Linked DNA regions of Homo sapiens: regions 1, 2, 3 and 5 are each linked to region 4. The links come from fine-mapping of genetic effects on gene expression. A gene starts in region 4. Each other region holds a variant in brackets. All regions are shown on one strand. Distances are from middle to middle.

Evidence for each region. PIP is the estimated chance that this variant, and not a neighbour inherited with it, causes the effect.
Region 1: its variant is fine-mapped to the expression of KCNMB4 in whole blood (INTERVAL, PIP above 0.99).
Region 2: its variant is fine-mapped to the expression of KCNMB4 in whole blood (TOPMed, PIP 0.99).
Region 3: its variant is fine-mapped to the expression of KCNMB4 in substantia nigra (GTEx, PIP 0.97). The same link has a PIP of 0.9 or more in putamen.
Region 5: its variant is fine-mapped to the expression of KCNMB4 in monocytes (TOPMed, PIP above 0.99).

What each region holds. Positions count from the first base shown.
Region 1 is chr12:70,256,910-70,262,014 of GRCh38, reverse strand. The region is part of intron 1 of CNOT2 (CCR4-NOT transcription complex subunit 2); the gene reads right to left. Among named protein-coding and RNA genes, the nearest start is that of CNOT2, 16 kb to the right of the region's middle. RefSeq lists enhancers at 2,916-3,449, 4,433-4,933. The variant A/T (reference allele first, on the strand shown) is at 3,129.
Region 2 is chr12:70,277,740-70,282,844 of GRCh38, reverse strand. CNOT2 (CCR4-NOT transcription complex subunit 2) reads right to left here. Exons shown (of 16, transcript NM_014515.7): 2 at 4,571-4,713. The coding sequence starts at 4,618. Among named protein-coding and RNA genes, the nearest start is that of CNOT2, 37 kb to the right of the region's middle. The variant C/T (reference allele first, on the strand shown) is at 2,743.
Region 3 is chr12:70,533,295-70,538,399 of GRCh38, reverse strand. PTPRB (protein tyrosine phosphatase receptor type B) reads left to right here. Exons shown (of 34, transcript NM_001109754.4): 28 at 169-245; 29 at 2,241-2,375; 30 at 3,445-3,567; 31 at 3,749-3,912. All of the region lies in intron 6 of PTPRB-AS1 (PTPRB antisense RNA 1), which reads right to left. Among named protein-coding and RNA genes, the nearest start is that of PTPRB-AS1, 68 kb to the right of the region's middle. The variant A/C (reference allele first, on the strand shown) is at 2,119.
Region 4 is chr12:70,363,285-70,368,389 of GRCh38, reverse strand. KCNMB4 (potassium calcium-activated channel subfamily M regulatory beta subunit 4) reads right to left here and starts at 2,100. Exons shown (of 3, transcript NM_014505.6): 1 at 1,320-2,100. The coding sequence starts at 1,655. RefSeq lists a silencer at 2,045-2,284.
Region 5 is chr12:70,339,824-70,344,928 of GRCh38, reverse strand. It overlaps CNOT2 (CCR4-NOT transcription complex subunit 2), which reads right to left. Exons shown (of 16, transcript NM_014515.7): 12 at 2,761-2,822; 13 at 2,622-2,671; 14 at 701-801. Among named protein-coding and RNA genes, the nearest start is that of KCNMB4, 24 kb to the left of the region's middle. The variant C/T (reference allele first, on the strand shown) is at 2,976.

The DNA of each region.
Region 1 (5,105 bases), 110 kb after region 4:
AAAGAAATAATGTGAACTGAATACTAACAAATTAAATAACTAAAGGGAAGGGACAAATTCTTACAAAGTCACAGACTATCAAAATTGACTTAGGATGAAACAGACAATCTGAATAAACCTGTAACAAGTGAAGAGATTGCATTAGTAATTTTAAAACTTCCCATAAAAAAAAAAAAAAAATCTCAGGCCCAGGCAGCTTCACTGGTGAATTGTACCAATTTTAAGAAAAACTGATACCAATTCTTCACAAACTCTTCTAAAACAGAGAAGAGTTTTGGAACCTGGAACATTTCCTAATTCATTTTACAAGACCATTATTATCCAGTTAACAACATCAAAGAAATCTCAAGAAATGAAAACTACAGACTGATATATCTTATGAAAATAGGCACAAAAACTGGCCAGGCGTGGTAGCTCACGCCTGTAATCCCAGCACTTTGGGAGGCTGAGGCAGGAGGACAACGAGGTCAGGAGATTGAGACCATCCTGGCTAACATGGTGAAACCCCGTCTCTACTAAAAAATACAAAAAAATTAGCTGGGCATGGTGGCAGGCGCCTGTAGTCCCAGCTACTCAGGAGGCCGAGGCAGGAGAATGGCGTGAACCTAGGAGGTGGAGGTTGCAGTGAGCCGAGATCATGCCACTGCACTCCAGCCTGGGCAACAGAACAAGACTCCGTCTCAAAAAAAAAAAAAAAAAAAAAAAAAAAGAAAGAAAGAAAATAGGCACAAAGATCCACAACAAAATACCAGAAAACAAATACAGCAAAATAGGGATTATACAACATGACCAGTTGGATTTATCCCAAAAATTCAAGAACTGTTCAACATCATAAAAACAAAATAATGTAATACAACATATTAGAACAACCACATGATCATCTCAAAAGATGCACCAAAAAAAGCATCTGAAAAAATCTAACAGCCCTTCATAATAAAAGCACTCAACATACTAGAAATAGAAAGGAACATCCTCAAACTGATAAAAGGTATCCATGGAAAAAAAAACAAAAACACAGGTATATACTCAAAGGTGAAAGTCTGAATGCTTTCCTTATATGATCAGAGATAATACAAGGTTGTCCACTAAACAGAATTGCCATTTCTATTTCATACTGTACTAAAGATTCTAGCCAGAACAATTAGGCAAAAAAAAAAAAAATAGAATGCATCTGGATTGGAAAAGAAGAAGTGAAACTACCTCTAATTGCAGATTACATGATATCATAGATAAGAAAATCCTAAAGAAGCCACTAAAAAGATTATTATAAACACATAAACCTAACAAAAGAGCACCGAAATGAATGAAGCAAAAACTGACACCTGAAGAGAGAAAATAGCCAATTCAACAACAGTGGTTGGGAGACTTTTAATACTCCATGTCAATAATGAATACAACAACTAGATACAAGATAAGTCAACAGGAGACTTGAAAATATACAACAGTTTACATAGCAGTTTAATACTTAAGATTTTATTAATAGTAATGTTTTATAATAATTAAGTAAACAAGTGCAACAAGGTTGCAGGGTACAAAATCAATACGCCAAAATTAATTGCATTTCTATACAATAACAATGAACAATCCAAAAATGAAATTAAGAAAATAACTCCATTTCTGAAGCATCCAAGAGAATAAAACACTTAGGTGTAAGTTTAACAAAAGTAATACAAAACATACCATAAAAACTACAAAACATTCTTAAAAGAAATTAAAGTCTATTTTGGTACTCAATTGATTAAAAAAAAAGAAATTAAATAACTATATAAATAGAAAGACATCCCATGTTCAGTTTCAACACAATTCTATCAAAATTCCACCTGGTTTCTTTGGAGAAATTAGCAAGCTAGTTCTAAAATTCATATGGAAATTCATGGAGCAGATACTAATAAAACAATCTCGAAAAAGAACAGAGTTGGAGGATTCTCAAAAATTCCTGTTTTCAAAATTGCAGATCGTAATCAAGGGATACTGGCATAAGGATAGGCATACCAATCAATGAAACAGAATTGAGAGTCCAGAAATAAAGCTTCACATATACAGTCAGCTCATTTTAGAGAAGGGTACTAAGATAAATAAATAGAGAAAACAGTCTTTTTAACAAATACTGAGCTCCAAATCATGCACATTTTTCACTATTATCTCTTCAAATACTCTATACACAAATTTAAGTCTAGCAACATACAAAATCTAGAAGAGGTTTTAGCAGTCTCATGATAAAGGAAAGCGGCAAAACTGGGGGAAGAGGATATTTATTATATGCATTCATTCAACAAACGTTTCAGGCACCAGTTAGAAGAGTACTAGCCAACAAAACAATATCCAACAGAAGTGAACAACTGATACATGCAACATAAATAAGTCATGAAATTATGTTGAGCAAAAGAAGGCACAAAACAATGCAGTACCTACAAACCCGTTTGTTCGAATCTCTAGAAAAAATCTCAAATATACTGACAGAAAGCAGATCTGTGGTTGCCAGGGCCATGATTGGGGTCTCCATGGAATCAGTGAACTTGAGGGTTGATGGGAATATTCTGTATCTGAATGATGGTGATGGTTAAACGGGTGTATAAATTTGTGAAAACTAATTTAAAAAAGGACACTTAAACGGGTACCTTGTATTATATGTAAACTTCCTTGACAAAGTTGATTTAAAAATAAGAATGGTATTAGTTCCTATGGATATTAAAAAAAAATAAGCCCTGCATGAAAACTCACCCTAGATCAACACTAAAAACTAAGCCCGGTCTGAATTTCACTGTAAAAGTGAAAGGCTCTGTAAGTATGCTTGAACAAGAACAGTACAAACAAAAATTCAGGAGGTTTTGAAGTCAAAGACCTGACTCTGGATCTTACTGGCTAGCTTATGTGACCTTGAAGAAGTTAATTACCAGTTATATGCTAGAACCTACCTTATTTACTCAACTGTAAAATGGGAAAAATTCAGCTAACCTCGTGTAACAACTGTGAAGAGTATATACAAGGTATATTTTACTGTAAGTAAAAATGTCCTTATGGTAGCCTAGCAAAGTCTTTCCTCATTTGCCCTTTTCTGTACCCATCTACCATTCTCTTCCTTTCCCACTACACTCTAGCCACACATACTGCTTTGCAATTTTTTAATC[A/T]TAAGACATCAAGAATCCGTCTCTCTCAGGTTTTTTGTTCTTTGTTGTTGTCCCTTCCTGAAAGCCCTTTCTCCTGAACAAGCACAGGATTGCTCCCTCACCACAGGCTCACGCCTTGAGGGGAAATCAGTGGGAAAGGACTTCCCTGACCAGCCTATTTAAATCTGCACCTCATACACACTCCATACTTTCCCTTAGTTTCTTTTCCTCCTTATCCTTACCACCATCTGTCAGATTATATGTATCTATATAGATTTTATTTTGTACACTGCTATATTCTTTTGGAATAGCACTTGGGGCACACGGTAGGAGTTAAATAAATATTTGTTAAATTAATGAATGAGTAACATAAAATATCTAATACAATACCTAAATATTACTTGTCTTTGCCTACTTCCCACAAGCAAAATACTATTTTCAAATACATCCACAGATATGAAAGTGATTTTGAAGCCCTCCAGAAAACATAAGCTTAATACTGAAAATACAATCTGATTTTAACATAACATCTTAACCTACATTTTCAGTGTTAATACAGTAAATTAAATTAGGCAAAAATTCTTTTAAACTTTTTCACCGTAAGTTTATCCAGTTTAAACCCCTTGGAGATCAGTTTTGATATGGTACTTCTGTATATTAACCCTGTCTCATAATTGTGTGATGCTATTTACTTTTTCTTCCCAGGAAGTATGGAATAATGCTTGGGAGGGGACCACGGACAGGACTATAACATATTACTCTTATTTTGTCTTTATTCTTATTAGTAAGAATGAAAAACATAAACAGAAAACGTGAAAATAGAAGTGAATATAAAATATTGCTTCTTCAGAGAAAAAGCCAAAAAATACAAGTTTTTAAAATTATCAGTTTATAACTTTGAAATTTAGAACTTTTTGTTAACACAACATACTCAGTATCAGTGACAGTAAATTAAAAAGGACACAATTTACACAGAGCTGCAGAGAATGTAAACTGGCACAGCTTTGCTGTAAGAAAAAAAGCAACTGAATATTAAAAGCTTTGGAAGATAACTTTTCATACATCCAACATATTTACATTTGTTAGGCCTGTACGAGTTTTCAATATACATTAATGAACTAGACTGAACTTGTCCCTACTCATGATCTAGTGGTGGAATGAAAGACAAAATTTTTTTAGCGTAATAGCTAATTACAATAGATGCTAGGGAAGAAGAGTCTACTTAAGAAAAGGGTAGTTGGGGCCGGGCGCGGTGGCTCACACCTGTAATCCCAGCACTTTGGGAGGCCGAGGCAGGTGGCTCACGAGGTCAGGAGATCGAGAGCATCCTGGCTAACACGGTGAAACCCCATCTCTACTTAAAAAAAAAAATACAAAAAAATAGCCGGGCACAGTGGCAGGCACCTGTAGTCCCAGCAACTTGGGAGGCTGAGGCAGGAGAATGGCGTGAACCCGGAAGGCGGAGCTTGCAGTGAGCCGAGATGGTGCCACTGCCCTCCAGCCTGGGCGAAAGAGCGAGACTCCGTCTCAAAAAGAAAAAAAAAAAAAAAAAAGGGGGTAGTTGGGGAAAGACTCACTGAGAGTATCCTGTATACTATCGGATGTGCTAAATGCTATACATATGTTGTCATTTACTCCTTCTAACCTCTGAGTTAAGTATATTATACCTGTTCTTACAGAGAGAATACTAAGGCTTGAAAAGTAATCTCACTAAGGACACAGCAATTGGCTAAGCACTGGACCTGCTTACCTCCAAAATTCATATACTTTGAAATGATTGTACTTATAGAAATTTCTTCTAAAGAAATAAATGTACAAACAATTCAGGTACAAGAATGTTCATCACAGTGCTATTTATAAAAGTAAAAAAAAAATAAAATGTTCAATCATACACAATCATTAAATCAGTTATGCTCTGGCCATTAAGAATCCTGTTTTGGATAAATATATGACACTGGAAAATGCTTATGGTGTCAGTTTTGTTTTTTCAATACAGGT
Region 2 (5,105 bases), 86 kb after region 4:
AATATGGGGCACCACTTTCCAAAAAATTGCCACACAATACATAAAAAAGATGTACCTCAATATACTGAAAAACATATATGTAATAAGTTATAAAAATATAAAGAATGAAACACAAAATTAAAACTATTGATTACTTCTGGGGAAGAGGGCAGAGGAAAGAATGGGAAACGGAAATAGCTCCATTAAGTACAATGCAGAAAAATACACATTTGTTAGAGACAAAGACAATGAATCACATCTACACTATATAGTCACTAGTAAAGATCTGAAGAGGTACACACCAAACTGTTAAGAGTAAAGTTGTCAAGGCAAACTTTCACACTGTATTTTATATTCCGTATTTTTCTTCAACGTTTTGGTAATAGGCATCTGTGATTTTTAAAGTTAATTAAAAGGAAGTAAGATATTTAATGTTGGGGAAGAAAATGGCAATACAATCATTTTTACAGTTCTCTGACATACTATATTCCACAAAAATACAATGTTTTAGATTATGAATCATTCTTCAGAAACGTACGGAATAGGATGCATTAGACCCAGTTTGTAGATAATGCATTGAATTAGCTAGCATATGATGTGACCAATGACCTCATACTGAAAAGTTCCATTCAAAGTAACATCTAAATATCTTGCAAATACCTCTACCTTCCCATACCACTTACACTGGTATGTTACCCAGTATACTTTCCATTTCTTCCTTTCCCTTCTTTCACTGTTTTATTTAATTTTATTGGAACAACATGCATTGAACACCTATCTACATACCAAGCACCAAGCTAGGTATTGGCAGTACCAAAATAAACAGATACGGTCCCAGTTTTCAAGAAGCTTATTAGATACAGCAGTATTATCTAATACGATTTTCTGCAATGATAGAAATGTTCTGTATCTACACTGTTCAATACAGTAGCCATTAGCAGCATGTAGCCACTGAGCATTTGAAATGTGGTTAATGTGACCAATGAACTTTAAAATTTATTTAATTTAAATGAGTTTAAATTTATTTAATTTAAATGAGTTTAAATTTAAATAGCTACTTGTGACTAGTTCCTACGGCATTGGACTGCACAAGTCTATAGGAAGACAAGGACAAATAAACACAACTACAATGTATTATGGTAAACACTAAACTAGAAGTATGTAAAGGCTATGAAAGAAAGGGAAAGGAACACTGAATCTACCATAGGGTGACGTCTGGAAAAACTGATACTTAATTCTTGAATCATGTGAACAAAGGTGAGGCATTACATGAAAATAACCAATATAAGTAAACCCCTGTGGGTGTGAAACTGCATGGCAGGGAGATTAAAAGCAGTGTTGTATTATTAAATGGGAAAATCTACTACAAAAAGTAACAGGAGATATATTGGAAAGGTAAATGGATGTAAGGAGGCCAGAATTTGGAAAGTCTAAAGGTAATGTTTAGAAGCTTGAATATGTTATGTAACAAAGGGAAAGCCGGATCGGGCACCGGTGGCTCACGCCTGTAATCCCAGCACTTTCAGAGGCCAAGGCGGGCAGATCACGAGGTCAGGAGTTCGAGGCCAGCCTGACCAACATGGTGAAACTCCATCTCTACTAAAAATACAAAAATTAGCTGGGTGTGGTGGCGCACGCCTGTAATCCCAGCTACTCAGGAGACTGAGGCAGGAGAATCGCTTGAACCCAGGAGGCGGAGGTTGCAGTGAGCGCACCACTGCACTCCAGCCTGGGTGACAGAGCAAGAGTCCGTCTCAAAAAAAAAGAAAAAAAAAAAAAAAGGGAAAGCCATTGATTAGTTAAATTGGTAATTAAGATGGTTTACATTTGTGCATGTGCATGCTCATAGCTAGGGTAAGTTAGTCTAAATTAGAGGAAGATAAGAAAATGGTTACAAAAACTGAAGGTGCATTTCCTTGGAAAAAGCTTGACAATCCAAAAATGAACCATGAGCCATATAATAAATTGTTTTATCTGAACTAATATGCCAGTCTATCTCTGCAAATAAACTTCAGCTACTGTATTCAAACTCCAAATACCTAACTGGGCTTAAACTTATAGTAAGAAAGAAAACACACAAAGTAGATACCACCATAAAAATCAATACTTCAAACCAAGCCCATTTAAAAGTCACTATCTTTAGTATAGAGCCAAGGGAATGCACCTTCCTAAACTTAATTCCTAAGGCTTTAATCAGGTCTGTAAGGAAATGAGACCTGGATAAATTTTACAAAAATTCTTGTTAAACTCTTCAATATTAGCCTATTATCAGAATGTTCAAATAAATATAAAATATTAAGTGTCCCTCAAAAGCAAAAGCCCTCAAAGATAAATGAAAATGGTTATAAACATAGACACAAAGAAATTCTACTTTATCTATGAAAAATACATAAATTTCCTCCAAAGTAGAATTTTTAAAAATCCAAAATCATTTTCATCAATTCGGAAGATTTAAGTTCTCTCTTCTAGCTATTTTGAAATATACAATACCTTCTTGTTAATTATAGTCACCCTACTCTGCTATGGAACATTAGAATTTATCCCTCTATGTCCCTTTTCTCTTTTGTTTTTACTTAGTGATGCTAAATGCATATTGAAGTATACCTTGGAAACAGCTGTTTAAAGCTGGATTGTAAAATTATTTTATTTTTGAACCCTACTCTGAAAAGCACATGTATAGAAACAAAATTTCCTGTTTGGTATTATGATGAATATATTAAGAATATAAAAATTCTTAGACTACCAGTACAAATATAAATGTTA[C/T]TTTAGTGATGAACATTCCTTTGAATTTCCCATACATTCTTATATAGACATTCTATACATGTAACAAAATACCACATGTACCCCATAAATACGTACAATTATGTATCAATAAACGAAGAGAGAAAAGGGAAAACATTTTGAGGCAGCAAACCCATAACCAAAAATGCATTTTCCAGGTATGCTCAAAAACCTGGATTATTTGTAAATAATATGACTGAAACAATGGAGTACTTTTAGTGTAGAAAGAGCAAGAATAAGCAAATCTCTTCATGTATAAAACATAATTCTGTTTTCTTTCTTAAGTATAAATTTTGGAATTCTATATTAATGTGGTTCCATGAGACAAATTAACTATAGTGTGTAATCACATAAAAATTCTACATTCACACTTTACAAATTGGATTATGAGCACTGAAAAGCCATATAATTCAGAATCACAAAATTCTTAAAATAATTTGGCAGAACCTACCAAAAGATGCAGAAGTCCAAGAAGTGTGACCAATTAAAATCTTATGAGTCAAGGTAATTGGAAGTGGGTGGGAAGCAGGAGCTACACCTGAGTACAGATCATTAGCAAAGGCTATGTTGGTCAAGTCTATGAGGACAACTCAGAAGAAAGGTTACAGAGAAAACTGATTCAGCATACCCTCAGTTTTCTCTGGCTTATTAAAATCATAAAGATCTGGCAAGAAACTTTAGATACCAAGTTAGAAGAAATTCTAGAAAGGTTAAATATGACATTATTTTTAATTAGGAACAGTGCCTAAACCAGAACCCAGATCTTATAATCAAAGCCTCTTTGTTATACCATACACCAAAAAGACTAATTTACAATTTGCTCCACTGCTAACTTTTCCAATTTGAGGGAAGAAAAGATTAACTGGGCTAAAATAAATGGTTAGCAGATAAACAGTTAGTTAACCAAAGCTGCTGCTATCATACTAGCTGCCTTCACAACCTAGAGGGAATGAACTGATGAGTGAAAGGAAGTGTGGGAGGTGGGGAGGTTGGACACATATCTGTGCAGGAAGCCTAAAAGTTTATTTGTACTCAAACTTTAAAGTATTCTGTATTCTGGATAACTAAATAAATGTGATAACAGATCACTATCAAATGAATAAAGGATATTTCCTTTAAAAAACTAAATTCAAATATGTTGGTTTTCTTTAAATCACTGTTTAATAGCACAATCTTTAAAATTCACCTTCTTTTCAAAGCTCAGAAATAGCAATGTTACATTTCCACTATTCTTCCAGCCTTCCTACACACTGAATAAGGAATGAATATTATTAACCACCTTATTAAATGAGAAAACAAGAATCTAGCATTTAAGGACAGCAAACTAATAACAAATTCAATAGAATTTGGGTCTCTAAGCACCCTGGGTTTCTCATTTCTATTTCTTCTATACTCTACTCAATTTTGTCTACATTTCTGTGATATATACTTTGTTATCCAAAATATAGCACAAGACTTCGGGTTTAGTCTTCCAGGAATAATATACGTAAAAGCAATCAACACTTTTGTTTTTACCATTTTGAATTCAGTCATGAAGTCATAACTTGTATATCAAATAATCTAAGTTTTGACAAATATCTCAGAAAACCTGATTTGACACTAAAAAATATACATTATGAATATGCTTTATTTTGAAAAGTGTTCCCAACTATTTCAACTATCAAATCCAGTACTTAATTTAAAATTATAAACCCAAATTTTCAAATTGAGGTGTAACCAATTTGCTGGTTCCAATTACATATAACACATTTGAACAGTTTCAATGTAGCTATAAGACCAATAGAGAAAAAAGAAGAAAGACTGGTCTTACCTGGTAGTTTCTTTTCTCAGATAATGTATGTCCATCAGTCCTCACCATAGAGTCGTGTCCTTTCCTCACAGTACCGGAGGCAATCAAATAGAACTGTCACTCAAGGGTCGTGTCACAGGAAGGACCGCCCACCACGTCTCCCTCTAGAGTGGAATTATCCAAAAGCCATCAAAATTACTAACATGTAAATATATCAACAGCAGCAAAAATATTCAATATGATACACAGAAAACAAAAAACAAAAAGTAATTGTTCTATACTCTAGTCTTCCTCGTAACCATTTTCGCGGGCTAGACTGGCATACTTTATTTGCAACAGAAATTATTAAATATGAAACATTCTTCCTACCCACTTCTACTTTCTTCAATTAAGACTGTCTGCCAGACATCACACACAAGGGAGAAATTTACAGTGAATAAAAAATGAAGTGGACAAAAAAGTTTACCCCTCCCACAACTGACATATTTTTTTCTTTTACATGAATCTTCTCCAGTTATCTCAAAAATATACAATTCACATTCAATCATTTAACTAT
Region 3 (5,105 bases), 170 kb before region 4:
GCAACATGGGGCAAGTTAGTTATCCTGCCTGAGCCTCATCTGCAAAATGGAGATAAGATCACTTCCCATCTGTGGCTGTTGTGGGGATCAGAGCTAAGGCACATCACACACATCACATAAACTGTAGAAAAGTCACTCCAAGACTCAGCAGCAAATCTCTCCTTCCAGATGATGCCACGCGAGTGAAGCTCTCCAATGTAGATGATGATCCTTGCTCTGACTACATCAATGCCAGCTACATCCCTGTAAGTGACCCACTAGGCCATAGTGTTCAGGATGAGGCTTTGGTGGGTGGCTACACTGGAGATGCCACTCCTCCATGTTCCTGTTATTCTTAGGTCTGGAAACACCTGTAGATTTCAGAAGAGCACATCTGAATGCCATAAAAAAAATGGGGTATCCAATTCAGTTCCTGCTACGCCACATTTTTCACAATGGCTATAGTCAAATGAAATTATGAGCCCAAGATGCATTTTCATAGATCATCTACTCTCTGCAGTCCTTAACCAAGATGAGAGCTTCCTAAGGAAGATGGACCTCCCCTGCTAAAGCTGCCTAGCTAGAGAAGCTGATCCCATGTTATTTGGAATCTTCACAACCACAGACACAACTCAAAGGTTATATCAAATCTTTGGGCTCTGGTTTTGGTTAGCATCTTGCCACCTTCCTATGGCATACTGCAGTGGAAAAAGCTTTCGGGTCAAACAAATCTAGGTTTGAATCCCACTTCTGCCCCTTGTTGATTCTGTGACCTTGGGCACATTATGTCACCTTTTTGGGCCTCCATTTTCTTTTCCAAAAACTGATGATAATAATATTTACCTCATACCTCAAGCAACCATCCATTCACTCAATAAACACTTAGAAATTAAGTGCTAACTGAGCTGTTTACAGGCATGGGATAAGATGGAATCCTGACCCTAAAGGAACTCTCAGAAGAGTTGAGGCAAGAAAAGGCAATGGCATGGGAAACCTGCCACAGCAGTGCCTCTCCTACATTGAAAGATGTCTGCGCCATCTGAGGATCTTGTGAAAAGGCAGATTCTGATCCATCAGGGCTGAGGCAGGGCCTGGGAATCTGTATTTCTTTCTTTTTTTTTTTTTTTTTTTTTTTTGAGATGGTCTTGCTCTGTCTGCCAGGCTGTAGTGCAGTGGCGCGATCTCTGCTCACTGCAAGCTCCGCCTCCCGGGTTCACGCCATTCTCCTGCCTCAGCCGCCCGAGTAGCTGAGACTACAGGCACCTGCCACCACGCCTGGCTAATATTTTTTTGTATTTTTAGTAGAGACGGGGTTTCACCGTGTTAGCCAGGAAGATCTCCATCTCCTGACCTCATGATCCGCCCGCCTTGGCCTCCCAAAGTGCTGGGATTACAGGGGTGAGCCACTGCGCCCGGCCGAGTCTGCATTTCTGACAAGCCTCTTGGTGATTTCAGTGCTGCTGGTCTGAGAACGGCACTCAGTAGCGAGAGGCTAGAGATTGCCATGGGGCATCTTGGAGAATATCCCCCAGCAGAGAGAAAGATAAAAGAAGGCTCAGCCAAGCAGGCACCATGCTGAGGATAAGTAAGGATTGGTCAGATGAGAAGCAGTGTTTGGGTGGGCGGGGGTGGCGATGGCAGAGGTGACATAATGTGGAGACCCTGAGGAAAGGCAAAGAGAAAGAGCTTCGATTAGAATTGACAAGGAATTGCTGTCATTGCCGGAGTGCAGAAGGAGTAGATGAAAATATCCCGCTCTTGGACTGTGGTTTGGATTAAATAAGTCCTGACCTGCGACACATTAGATGGTAGACGCTCAGTCAACAGTTTCTCTTCCGTGATGCTTCCTGTGGATGATATATCTTACCAAATTATTCTGACATTGATTATCCAAAATGACTAACACTCTTCTACATTAAATAGGGAAAGAGCCTGATTACAGTCCCTCCAACAGTCTACACAAATACCCCCCAACACACACATATAATTGAGGGTGAAGTGTTTTCTAGATCATTGCCTAAGTCCCCCATTTGCTTTCAGAATAGACCCAGGCAAGTAAAAGGGAATGTGGCTCTTAACACTAGTTCAATGTTCTGACCTTTGTCCTTCCTGCTCCCAAGCATTGACACTTGTGTTAGT[A/C]TCTTTTTCTGAAGTCAGAGACTTGGCAGAGACCTCCCTATCATCTAATCTGAAGAACTCTTTGTTTATAGTTCTGAAGAGGCCCATTGTTTCTGACTCTCCATATTGTAAATTCATTGCAGGGCAACAACTTCAGAAGAGAATACATTGTCACTCAGGGACCGCTTCCTGGCACCAAGGATGACTTCTGGAAAATGGTGTGGGAACAAAACGTTCACAACATCGTCATGGTGACCCAGTGTGTTGAGAAGGGCCGAGTGAGTAAACAGCCTTCCTGGCATCAAAGCTTTGCTTTCTGCCACCTGGATAGAATTCTGCCCCATCATCAAAGTGAAACCCCGCAAAACAACGTAGGGATCATGTGAGAGCATTGTTAGTGACTTATACCACTCTGTTCAAAAGACTCTAATAGTAAACCCAAGTGATGCCTGATTCTGATTCTGGGTCTGAAGTTCCAGTCAAAGCTGTTTCCATTTGAGGACTGGGATTAGTGGCAGTGCCCATTACACCAAAAATTACCTGGCCACTTGGCTACTCCATTCTTCAGTGTCTGGCTGGAGGAGAGACCCTGCCAGAGTCACTGGACCTGCCCCTCATCCCAGGAAAGGAGAAGTGAGTTGTAGACTGTGTTGGCAGACACAAAGTAAAATAATAATCCAGACAAATCAACCAAACCCCCTTGTAATGCACTTACCATCCTCTACTTTATATGGTTATTTTGAGGATTAAAAGATTGAGGATTAAAAGAGAGATTACGTATAAAGTGCCTAGTATCTGCGCTCAGTAAACATATGCTTACATTCCTCTTCCCCTTGTCTGTATACATGTAAAGGCGAGCTTAGCTAAACGTTCTAACTTCTCAAAGATCTCTTGGCACACGGCCCACGTTAGGACAGTGACATAAAAATATGAACGAAGAAGGGCCAGGAAGACAGTGCCTTCCTCTACCCAACTAGATATTTCTTTCTTTAGAAAGAACAATACGTTGTGAACCACAGTTTACCTGCTAGTGGAACTGAAATGCTGAGGGGAAAAAAAAAAAAAAAAAAAAAAAAAACTCAAGCCATATATTACTGGGCCTAAAAAATGAGTGAACCCAAAGGTTGGAGTCAGGGGTGCTCCTTGTACAGGCTCTCCCCTTCACTTGGAGCAGCACCTCAGCTTCAGCACTGGCCATGAGAAGGTTAATATAAAGTAGATGGTCAAATTGCTTTAGCAGCTGATCCCAGATTCCTAACTTTGGAAGACATTTAGAGGAGGGAAACCCCAGGTTCACCAAGGAGTCACTTTTCCGGACTCATGTTTTTTCTGTCTGTCCTGTTCTAGGTAAAGTGTGATCATTACTGGCCAGCGGACCAGGATTCCCTCTACTATGGGGACCTCATCCTGCAGATGCTCTCAGAGTCCGTCCTGCCTGAGTGGACCATCCGGGAGTTTAAGATATGCGGTGTATGTTAGCTTGCTTGACTTAACAACCGAGCTTGGGGAGATGAATGAGATCTGTGAACCCCACTTTCGCTGGTTCCTCTCTTGTAGTTTCAGCCCATAGGAGTTGCTCCATGGCTCAGCTGTCAAGTTTGAAGGTTTGCATTGGACAGTTCCTCTTTTATCCTGCTCTCTGCTCTTACAGGAGGAACAGCTTGATGCACACAGACTCATCCGCCACTTTCACTATACGGTGTGGCCAGACCATGGAGTCCCAGAAACCACCCAGTCTCTGATCCAGTTTGTGAGAACTGTCAGGGACTACATCAACAGAAGCCCGGGTGCTGGGCCCACTGTGGTGCACTGCAGGTACTAGGAAACCTAGCAGCCAATAAAATGGCAGCCATAAGGGGGTTGTGCCTGGGAGTCTGGAAAAATACATAAGCATGGGGAATTTGGTGGGTGGAGGATTTGTCTGGACCAACCAGCCTGCCTCGCCCCCAGAGGGTTTTATAACGTTCCTCCCCTTCTGCCAACATCATTTCTCTTCCCTGACTTCTTTTCCACTTTCTTCCCCTGTAGCCTCTCTCTCATCCTCACTCTCCAGCCTTCTCTCTCCCTCTTGCTTTTTTCCTACTTTCTGAAATGCAAAGTCCTGATGGGAATTCCATGCTTTCCATCATCAGGCATATCACCTTCAATCTAAGTTCCCAATAACTCCCTTCACATTCTAGCCAGGAAAGTGAGCACACAAGCTTATTCTTGCCTCTGGCCATTCTTCCATTTTGGAATGGCTTTATCTCTCTTCTCCACCTAAGTCCTACCTATCCTTCAAGATTTATTTTCTAATCTTCCCTCCAGGTCTAGTAGCATGTCTTTGTCTATTTGTGCTGCTAAAACAAAATACCACAGACTGGATAATAAATAATAGAAATTTATCTGTCATAGTCTAGAGGCTGGAAGTCCAAAATCAAGGCACTGGCAGCTTCAGTGTCTGTTGAGAGCTTAGTCTCTGCTTCCAAGATGGTGCCTTGTTACTGTGTCCTCCAGAGCAGACAAAGGCTGTGTCCTCACATAGAGGGAGGGATGGAAGGGCAAAAGAACCTAGCTAGTTCCCTCCAACTGTTTCACAAGGCACCAGTCCCGTTCATGAGGGCAGAGCCCTCATGACCTAATCACCTCCTCCACCTCTTAATACTGTTGCATTGAAGATTAAGTTTCAACATGAATTTTTGGAGGGGACACAAACATTCAAACCACAGCACAGCAATTGCCACCTGTAGCACCTAATTTTTTCTCTTAAATTTGTTCTCTTGATTTCTCTTTGCTTCAGTCTGTCCAGAAAATCAACCTAACAAGTGAAATCTCTCTCTCTCTGGCGAGCCTGGTATCTAGCAAATTAATGTTTGCAGCAACATTTTGATAGCCCTAACTGAATGGCACTAATAAATATGGAGCAGGGAACTGCAGCAGTAAGAGAAATGCCAAGTGTACTCATCTCCTCCCTGTCAGCCCAGCACCCTAGGAGCCCTGCTTTCCTATGTCCTTGGAACCTTGACACT
Region 4 (5,105 bases):
ATTTTTTTTTTGAGAGGAGTCATTCATATTTTTAAAAAGAAATATTTTCTAAATGTCTCAAATTCAAGAATTTACTGTTCAGGAGGTAAGACCACAAGTTTTATTGCAGAGTGACGGTAAGCTGTTTTAAATACTATTATAATATTAATGTAGAATTTTTTTCTTTTGGATTAATATAAATATATCTTGTTAGAGTTAACAGAAAGTTTTCCTGTGAACACAAGATGCATTCCCTTTTGGACTGTTTTTCTGCTTGATCCCTCAAAAAAAGGAAAAATGTCAGTAACTTTTAAAAAGATACATACCTTTGATAGTTAAGCAACAAGGAGAGCAGAAAAGATCAAGGGAAGTAGAAACGGAACCAGAACCAGGTGCACTACAAAGCTCAATTAGTTCACAGGCTAAGGACACTGCTTTTTATAAGTTATTTTTCTCCATTGGGAACAGTTTTCTGAGACTTCCTCTCTCTGCTCTCCATCCCGGGAGTCCTAACCAGGTTTTATCTTTTTTTTTTTTCTTTTTCTTTTTCTTCTTGCTTGCTTTCGAGACCAATAGAAGTTGTCAGAGAAGTCATATTAGGTACATTTCACTGAAGGTTTTCTATTTTCAGCAAGTTTTACTGTTCTCCAGACGACTCCTGACTGTCCCTAAACACAAAGGGTAACTAGGCTCCCTGTAGACTCTTTTGAGAATCTATTTCATGAAAACTAGGAGCCCTCTGTACTTCCCAAAATGGACCCGCAATATTCCACATTTGATTCCGGGTCGTTTGTCAAGCCACAAAAGCTTATCTTTGAACCCCAAGTTGAAAATGCCTATGTAGAGCGAAAAGGTGAGGAACTCTCTCACAACTTTCGAGAGTCCCCTCGACCTTTCAAGGAAGGTCATTCCATCTGAGTTCTAGATGAGACCAGCTGAAGCTCGGACCTTGACCGTGAGCTGGAGTAGGTGGATCCCCGCTAACCACTGGCTTTAAATGGAGGAAAAGTTAACTTTCTTGGCTCCTTGCACTTCTCCAAACCCAGTCCGGTAGGCGCAGGACCCGGACTGGGTCGAGGCCTCAAAATCTGAGACCAGGCAAGACAGGTTTTAAAGTAAGCCTCTGGGCACCACTGGTCGCCGCGCGTAAACCCACCTGAAAAGACCGGAGCCCTGGGGCTCCCTGATGTAGTCATTCCTGGTTTGAGCACAGCCTGCGCCACCTGGTCTCCTCCTAGCAATGCGAGCACACGCCGAACCCTCCCCGCGCGGAGTCTAACACCGACGCTGCCTCCAAACCTCCCTCGCGGGGAGCCCCTGGGTGCGCGGGGCGTTCTTACCTTGGGGTTGGTCAGGAGCTGGTGCTCGTCGCTGTGCAGCAGCGCCCTAGAGTTGGACTCAGAGTTGTTCACGTAGACCTGGACGCAGGGGTACTGCGAGGTGCCCCTGCAGTCGGCGCCACAGGTGAAGGTGCACTCGAACACCTCGCCGATCTGCTGCACCGACAGCACCGTGCAATTGGCCTCCGTGGCTTGCAGATCCTGCAGCGCGGGACTCAGCCAGCAGAAGCCGAAGATGAAGAGCGACACGACGCCGGAGATGATGAGAAACAAGCCGAGCCGGATGCTCTTGTCCTCGGCTTCCGTGTACTCGTAAGCCACCCGGAGCTTCGCCATCGCCCCCCACTCTCGGCGGCTGGCGTGCTCCCCCCGCCCCCTCCCGCCCCCGGCGCCGAGCCCGACTGCCTCGGGCGGGAGGAGCCGCCGCCGCCACCGCCGCCGCCGCGCGACAGCAGGGGAGTGGGCGGCGAGGGGGAGCGCGCGAGAACAAAGGGGCCGAGGCCAGCGACGCCCCCGGCGGCGGCGGCGGCAGCGCCCCCCAGCCCCCCAGCCGCCGCCTGGGCCCCGCGGTGCAGCAGCCGCTTCAGAGCCTCCTGCACCCTCGGGCGCGGGGAGCGCACGGACCGCTCCAGCTTCCAGCGCCCCCTGCCAGCCTCCGCCCCCGCACTCTCCCCGCCTCCCCCACCCCGCCTCCTCTCGTCGGGTGTCTCTCTGTCTCCATCGCCCGCTGGCCGCTACTCCGCTGACTCGCCCGGCAGCTGCCCCAAGGCTAGGAGTGTCTGAGCTGGGGCGAGCCCGGGGGCTCCCCCGTGCAGGAGGAGGCTCCGCCCCGCCCCGTCCGCAGCAGACCCGGGCCCTTCCGCCCCGCCCCGCTCCGCCCCGCCCCGCCCGGGGGCGTCTCCTTTGGGCGAGGGGCTGACGGGCACAAGCGACAGCGGCGACTTGCAATCGGAATCTTCGCTCACTCCCCTTAGAGGGACGTCCGAGATGAAAGATTAAGATCAATTTAGCTTAACCGGAGGGAAGTTAAAATAATAATAATAATAAGAGGGGAGGGTGGAGTTCAAGTGGAGCGGCGGGAATCTTGAACTCCAAACGAGTACTGGTCACCTGCAGGGAGAGCGGCCAGGCTCCGGGCGCACCCCGGGAAGCGGGCACGGGTGGCGGTGTGGGAGGACACGAGCCGCCCAGGCCGGGCGGATCGAGGTGAAAGCCCCAGGCTAGCGGTGTGCGCTGGGAGGTCCCCGGGGACGACTGAATCGCAGGTTCCCATGCCACGGGCGGGCTGGCGCGCGGTGGTGCCGGAGGCGTGACCCAGCCGCGCCCACGCCGCCAGCGGCTGCGCCCAAGGGAGCGCAGTAACCGTCCAGTCCCAGGACTTGGGCCTCCTAACCGTCTTGGCGCAGACCCGCGCCCCCTGACCCTGCTGAGGCCGGGAGGGCTGCAGGATTGGAGTTAAACAAGCTGAGTCAGGTGGAGTTTGCTGTGGAGGCAATGTGCGTGGGGGCAGGAGGCTGGACGAAGGAAACTTGCTGCTTAGGTCGTCGGTGACCCTTGTGGCAACTTAGGTCTCTGGCAGCCGAGTTGACCCCAACTTGATTTGCCCCCATGGCTGGGGCTGACTGAGACCAAAGGAAAAAGGTGGAGAGCTTTGCAGCCTGGAAAGAAATACCACTTTACCCATCAGAAAAGTACTCTTGCTTTGGGGCTCGCAAGAACAGAATCATTTCTGTCGTTTCCCTCCTTAGGAGTCTTGCCACCCCTGACCCGCCCCAGGATTTGTAGATGAGGTTTCCAGGAGCGCTGCTTAAAGCGACAGCGCCGGGCAGACCCACTTTGGGACAGGTACTGTTTCTAGACCTGTGTTCTGCTCTTAATTCTTGCCGTTGCTCCCTCCTCCCCCAATTACGCTAACAATGCTTCAGCCTCTATTGTTTTCGCGACCTTTTTAAAGTTAGAATGACCTTTTCCCAAACTACACTTTTATCATAAAATCAAACTTGAGAACTATTTATATGTACATTTCGAAGAATAAAATCAGAATATTAACTTCCTTGCAAACTACATAAACTTTTTTTGTTTGCTTGTAAGTCTCAAATGAATAAACTCTTAATTATGTTCCTGATGAATACGGAAACATGGAATCATGGAATTCTTGACTTCTCTTTCCTGGACTTCAAATGTTACTTAACTGGTATTGAGTACCTTTCGACTGCAGTTCTGATAACGTTATTTTGAAGCACTACATTATGACAGGTAACAAGTATTTCCCAGCAATGGGCAAATTAATTACAGGAAGATCCTAAGTGTCTTTTTCTCAATAAATTAAGAAGATGTAGAGTTTGAAAAACGTCCAAATTAGGAAGATGCTTTGTTCTCTAATACCTTTCAGGTTTTGAGATTTTCTTTTTTTAATTTAAATGTAAGAATTGTATTCTTTTCCTGTTAGCATAAAGACAATTGTGATTACATTGCTTAAAAGTGAGTTTAATAATTGAAATAGCATAACCGAAAATCACAAATCTTCAATCTGAATCTTTTTCCTATTGCAGGAAAAATAAAAAACATAGGAAATAATCTTTTTTTTCTATTGTTATAATCTTCTTTTCCAAGAAAGGAAAAGCTATGTCTAAGATCTGAAGCAATGATGAACAAATAACAAGATACAATTATTCTAGCTCAGTATGTTGAGGAACTGAAATGAGGCAGAATTAATTCCTATTAATGCACAGCAGTTGGGGGACTACCAATAATTTAATGAATATGGTTCGTTTTTCAATGATTCCAGAGCTCAAAGTCTTCTGTGAATGAAACCTCTGCCTCAAAACTGAAGTACGGTGGTCTAAGTCTAGGGAACAAAATCAGAAAATTCTATCTTATTTTAACTGAAATTCTTGAAGTTTTAAAATTCATTTTCTTTCAGTTCTGCATTTAGTCAATTTCTTTCTTGGCAATTATTCTTAAAGTATTTAAAGAAACTTGTGTCTTCTGTTCTCTAGACATTTTTTTCTCCTGTTTCCTGTTTTTAATTTAGCTTTTCTCTGAACACTTTTATCTTCACATCTTTATTGAAAGTCAAACGTATTAAGACTTCACAAATTAAATCAATTTCTATTTTATTCTTAATGAAACACTGGAAGTGTTTATTAGTTTTACTTACTTGAAGCGGAGCTGCTTTATCACATTCCCAAGGAAGATTGGATATGTCAGCCCCTCAGTTTCAGAATACAGGTCACCACTTACTAAGTCAGAATGGTAGTAAGAACTCCAGGAAAGCTCAGAAATGCTAAGATCTGAGGTCACTTAAAATCTCTGTTCCCTGTGAAAGGTGGAAGTAGCACAGAAAAAGCAGCTAGTCCTTTCTTTGAATAGTGTTCCACCAATTAAGATTAAAAATGTAATATTAAGAACCAGACTGACTTATTTGATGTACATCGTCTGCAGTAGTTTTTCCAGTAGGATCATGGCCAGGTCTTGATAAAGTTCAATTTAAAAGAAAAATAAAGCCTGTCTAAACAAGGGCATCAAAGCCATGTTACTTATAATTTGTTCTCATGATCAATATTCAAAAAGTCCTGTGGCTGATGCTAAAGTTGCAGTATACAATATCATATGTATATATACTTTTTAATAAAAGATTCTAAAAATAATTTTAAGGCAGGCTTTTGTATCCTAGGAATAGAAGGGAATTTACAGCAGGTGGGAAAATTTTTTCAAAAATTGGCACATTATGAAGTTTTTTGATAACTGCCACTAAACACTTGAAAAGCGAAAATACATAGGAAA
Region 5 (5,105 bases), 23 kb after region 4:
CACTGCCTTGCTTATAAGTAATAATGTTTATGAAATGATTAAATTCAGTATCGAATTATTTATACATATGGTTCCACAAGGAATAAAAAACATAGTCATGAATATCATATAATTCACATATTTACAAAAATTAGATTCACCAAATCCATGAGTTATGTCAATTCTGTCTTCTTACAAATTTGGCACTTATTAGTTATTTTTAGAGACAGGGTCTTGCACTGTCAGCCACACTAGAGTGCAATGGCACAATCATAGCTCACTGACACCTCAAACTCCTGGGCTCAAGCGATCCTCCTGCTGTAGCCTCCCAAGTAGCTAGGACTATATAGATGTGTGCCACCACACCTAGCTAATATTTTCCTTTATTTTTTGTAGAAATGTGGTTTGCTGTGTTGCCCAGGCTGTCCCTAACTTCTGGCCTCAAGTGATCTGTCCACCTCACCAAAGTGCTGGGATTACAAGTGTGAGCCACTGCACCCAGCTTCAGCATTAAGTTTGAAATTCTTTTTAGGTATATAGATTATGAAGCCATGGTTAAGATACGGTTTTAATCTAAATTAAATTCACTTTAATAATGTAAAAATAAATTTCTTGATGGAGAAATAGTTCCATTTAAAGATAGCCATCATCACTTAAAGATGTTTTCAGCATAGTCAAGATCCACTATAATACAAAAGTGATTAAAATACTTTGAACATACAGCTCCACTGCAGCTAAAAGTTGTAATACGTCTCCTCCATTCATGTAATAGAGATAGAAGAGAAGGTCTTCACCATATCGGCCAAGTTTTATTGCAGCCAGCTGAAAAAGAAAAATAACTTATTCTGAAATATAAAACAAATCTGCAAATCCTAATATATAGTTGCTACTACTAAAGAAAAAATGGAGAGATAAACAGAAACTCCCCACTTTGTAGTAGATAACTGTTATTACATGATTACACAGATAGGTAGTTAAGATTCTAAAAGGGAATTTCCTCATTTAAATGACTGAAGTCATTTAAACAATTATTTCTGATACATCTAATTGATATGCTGACTGGAAGAAAAGCTCAATAAAGACTTCCAAGCAAGATCCACTAAAAGGATTTAATACCCAATGGGGAAAAGAACCTAACAATAGCATTGTGCTCAGAGATCTAGGACTTGTATTCAAGTCCTGGTTTTATTACTCATTAATATGACTGTGTCCTAGTTATTTAAAATCTCTTAGCTTTACTTGTCAAATGTGGACAATGACACCTATGAGGGTTACTAAGAAAGTAAATAAAATGAGTGAAGGTATATGAAAGCACCTTGTAGAGTGCCAAATATATAGACGGCTTATAAAAAATGTTAAACTGAATCTATATCTGACAGTGAATGATTCACAAGTCAGTTGTATGCTTTCAGCAAATCACAGATGATGAATACAAAAATCATAAAGAAATGGCTTTTCAGTTTGTTTAAATAGATGTCTGAAAGATGATTGCTTTACATTTCTCTCCCCAAGGTAGAAACATAACTGCTTACCAAACTGTAAAACATAGGTTCAATAGTCTCAAATTTTCACATTTAAATAAACCTTAAAAGTGTCCCAAAACAACATTTTTATCTCGTTATTTGATCCTATATCGAAATACTTATTTGGTTATTACACATTCTCTGAATGTAATTTTTCTCTCCATTCATGTTATCCCTATTCAGGCAGCAGCCCCAATGTGACAAATTCTCCTAAATTAGTATTTCTCAAATTGGTAATAAGAAAAGGTTCTGGAACACTTTGGTAATTGGAGCGAAAGAGCTCTACAGTGGTGGTGGGAGCAAATCACACAATCCGCAAATAGAAAATAGGAGACCTCTCCATCTTGTATTTCTTGCCTTTTATCTACTCAAGTATTAGAAGACATTGAGAAAGGTATCCCTTTACTTGCCTGTCCACATCAACATCCACTTGACCACAGAACTGTAAGGCACACTCAGAATGCTGTTGTATATATACACATACACATAGATATTTATACACAAATATATAACAAAAATATATTTTTTCACTAAATTGTAGTTTCCCAAGGCTAAAATTTAGGTACCATTGTGAATATTTTTTGGTAATAGAAACAAACTCTCAGTTCTTCTAAAGCAAAAAGTGCCACCATTTTCTTTCTTAGATTGAAAAAAGAGAGATTAAGCTGTAATCTGTTGTTAATAACTACTTTAGAATTAGAATTTTAGGTGATTTAAAAAAATGGAAATGAAAAAATACAGAGAAAAGTCAAAGGTCATAAATAGTTTTTAAAGATACAGACCATCTCATTAAAAACACTGTATCTGTAATACTTGTAACGAAAATCTTTTTACTGGTAAGGTCATAAAATAAGATTATCAGAAGGATATTTATCAAATGTTCCAATCTAGTTTATTCTCATCAACTGCGGTTATGGTTGTAACCTGTTGTTAAATGTAAGAATTTTTATTTTTTACCAGTCCTAACATTTACCATTTAACAAGTTAACATGGACATATGAAAGCATATCCCTGAGACCATTACTAATTATTTCAAAAATAGTATGCTGCCTGAACTGAAAAACATGTGAAAAATAGATAAATTCATGCTGACTGAGTAGAATAATAAACTACACTCACCTTATCCCTAATGTGAATGTTCGTTAAGTACTCAGATGGAACATGGAAGTCTGGATAATAAAATGAAAAAAGCCTTATTAACTGATTCTCAATTGTAAATTTCTTTTTAAAAGGTCTAAACACAAATAGATTCTCCTACCTATGTCTTGAGGTCGACAAGGTGAAGATGCCCAGGGTGACGCAAATTTGGGGTAGAGATTTCTGAATAAGGAGGAAAAGAAAACATTTTGAAATCCAGAAAAAGAGATTTCTAATTTTATTTCAGGAAAAACAAAGACTCCAACTGTAAAATGACCATCTTTACTTCTAATTCCCTTACTTGGGTTTACTGACTTATACAGAAGCAAATGAAGA[C/T]TGTGTGTGTTTGTGTGTGTGTCTGTAAAATATGATAGGACTCCTTCCCTCAGTATTCTTGCAATACAGTATAAATAACACAACATATCACAATATACAAAACATGATTAAAAATTTTCTACTTTTACTTGATTTCAACTCAAGATGCTTTAAATTCTTCAATACCATGCTCCCAATATAAATTAAATTTTAAATAAATTTTAAATAAATTTCCCATTTATTTGTGTGGCAAGAAGAAAACTGAGTAACTATTTGCAAAAGTTTAAATTCATCAAATATTTACTGAGTGCCTATTATATGCCTGGCACTGTTCTAGGAGCTTACGACACATCAGTGAGCAAAACAAGATCACTGACAACATGAAACTTACTTTCTGGTTGAGGATGGTGGATTGGAGGGGGACAGACAAAATCAATTAACAGAATAAATAAATAAACAATGGCCCATGTTAGAGGGGAACTGGGAGGGGAGACTGGATGCATAATTATTAAATAGGGTGGTCAGTTAGGTTTCATTAAGGTGGTCAGATCTGAAGATTTGAAGGCTATAAGGGACATAGTCATATTAATTATCTGGCAGAAGACTCTTCTAGTCTGAGGGAACTCCTAGAGCAACTAAGGCAGGGACATGACTGACATGCCTGAGATATAACAAGGTGGCCAGTGAAGCTGGAATACAGTGAACAAAGGGAAAAGCTGTTGAGGTGGGGTTAGGGGACAAACAATAATCATGTAAGACCTTGCAGGCCTGTGAAGATTTGGGGTTTCTGGTCAAGCGCGGTGGCTCACACCTATAATTCCAATACTCTGGAAGGCCAAGGTGGGCAGACCACTTGAAAAGTGAGGAGTTAAGAGACCAGCCTGGCCAACATGGTGAAATCCCGTCTCTACTAAAAATACAAAAATTAGCTGGGCATGGTGGCACATGCCTGCAATCCCAGCTACTCAGGAGAATCGCTTGGACCTGGGAGGTGGAGGTTGTAATGACCCGAGATTGCATCACTGCACTCCAGCCTGGGCGACAAGAGCAATACTCTGTCTCAAAAAAAAAAAAAAAAAAAAAAAGATTTGGGGTTTTTAATCATAATGAAACCACAAACATTTACTGGGTGTTGAGCAGAGGAGTAATGTATTAAAAAAGGATTGTCTTGGCTGTTATATGAAGAGATTGTACGGGAAGGGGTATAAGGACAATCAGGGACCCCCAGTGACTGGCTAATGGAGTATTCAGGCAAGAGAGAATGATTCAAACAAGGGTGGTAGCAGTTAAAAGTAGTGAGCTTTGGTTAGATTCTGTATATATTTTGGGAAAAGCCTGATTATGGGGTATAAAAGAAAGAGGAGTTAAGAATAATGCCAAGTTTCTGGAAGTACAGAGTTACCACTAACTGAGATTGGAAAGGCTGTAGACAGAATAAGTTGGGGGGTGATCATTCAAGAAATATTTAATTGGCAATTGAATGTAGAAATCTCAAACTCAGAAGTGTGGAATGGAAACATATGTTTGGGATTCCTCAATATATATGGTATTTAAAACAATAAGACTAGAAAAAGATCATCAAGGATGTAAATGCAGAGAAGAGGAATGACACTGAGGTCAAGAAGAAAAGGAGGAGGTACCAGCAAAGGAAACTGAAAAAGACCAACCAGTGAAGATGAGGTAAAAATGGTGCTCTCAAATTCAAGTACAAGAATGTGTATCAAGGAGCAAGAGTTCCTCCAAGTGACCACTGAATTTAATAACATGAAGGTCATTTGGTGACCTTGATAAAAGCAGCTTTAGTGAAGTGGCAGGGACAAAATCCTGACTGAAATGGGCTTACCAGAGAATGGGAGAAGACCAAGTCGGAGAAATGGAGATGACTCTTTGAAAAGTTTCGCTTCAAAGGGAAATAAAGAAATGGGAAAGTAACTTACGGAGGAGGTTGGATCAAAGGAAGATTTTCTTCTAAGATGAGAGAAGTAACAATGTATTTCTATGTTGATGAAAATGACCCAACAAAGTGTGAAAATGTGTTGTAAGTAGAACGCATGGGTCAATTATGGTAATAGGGTGGAAAACAAGAATAACATAGGTGTAGGTGGCTGTAGGTAGTCAGATTTGTTGGCTAGACTGTGCTAAATGTGCTCT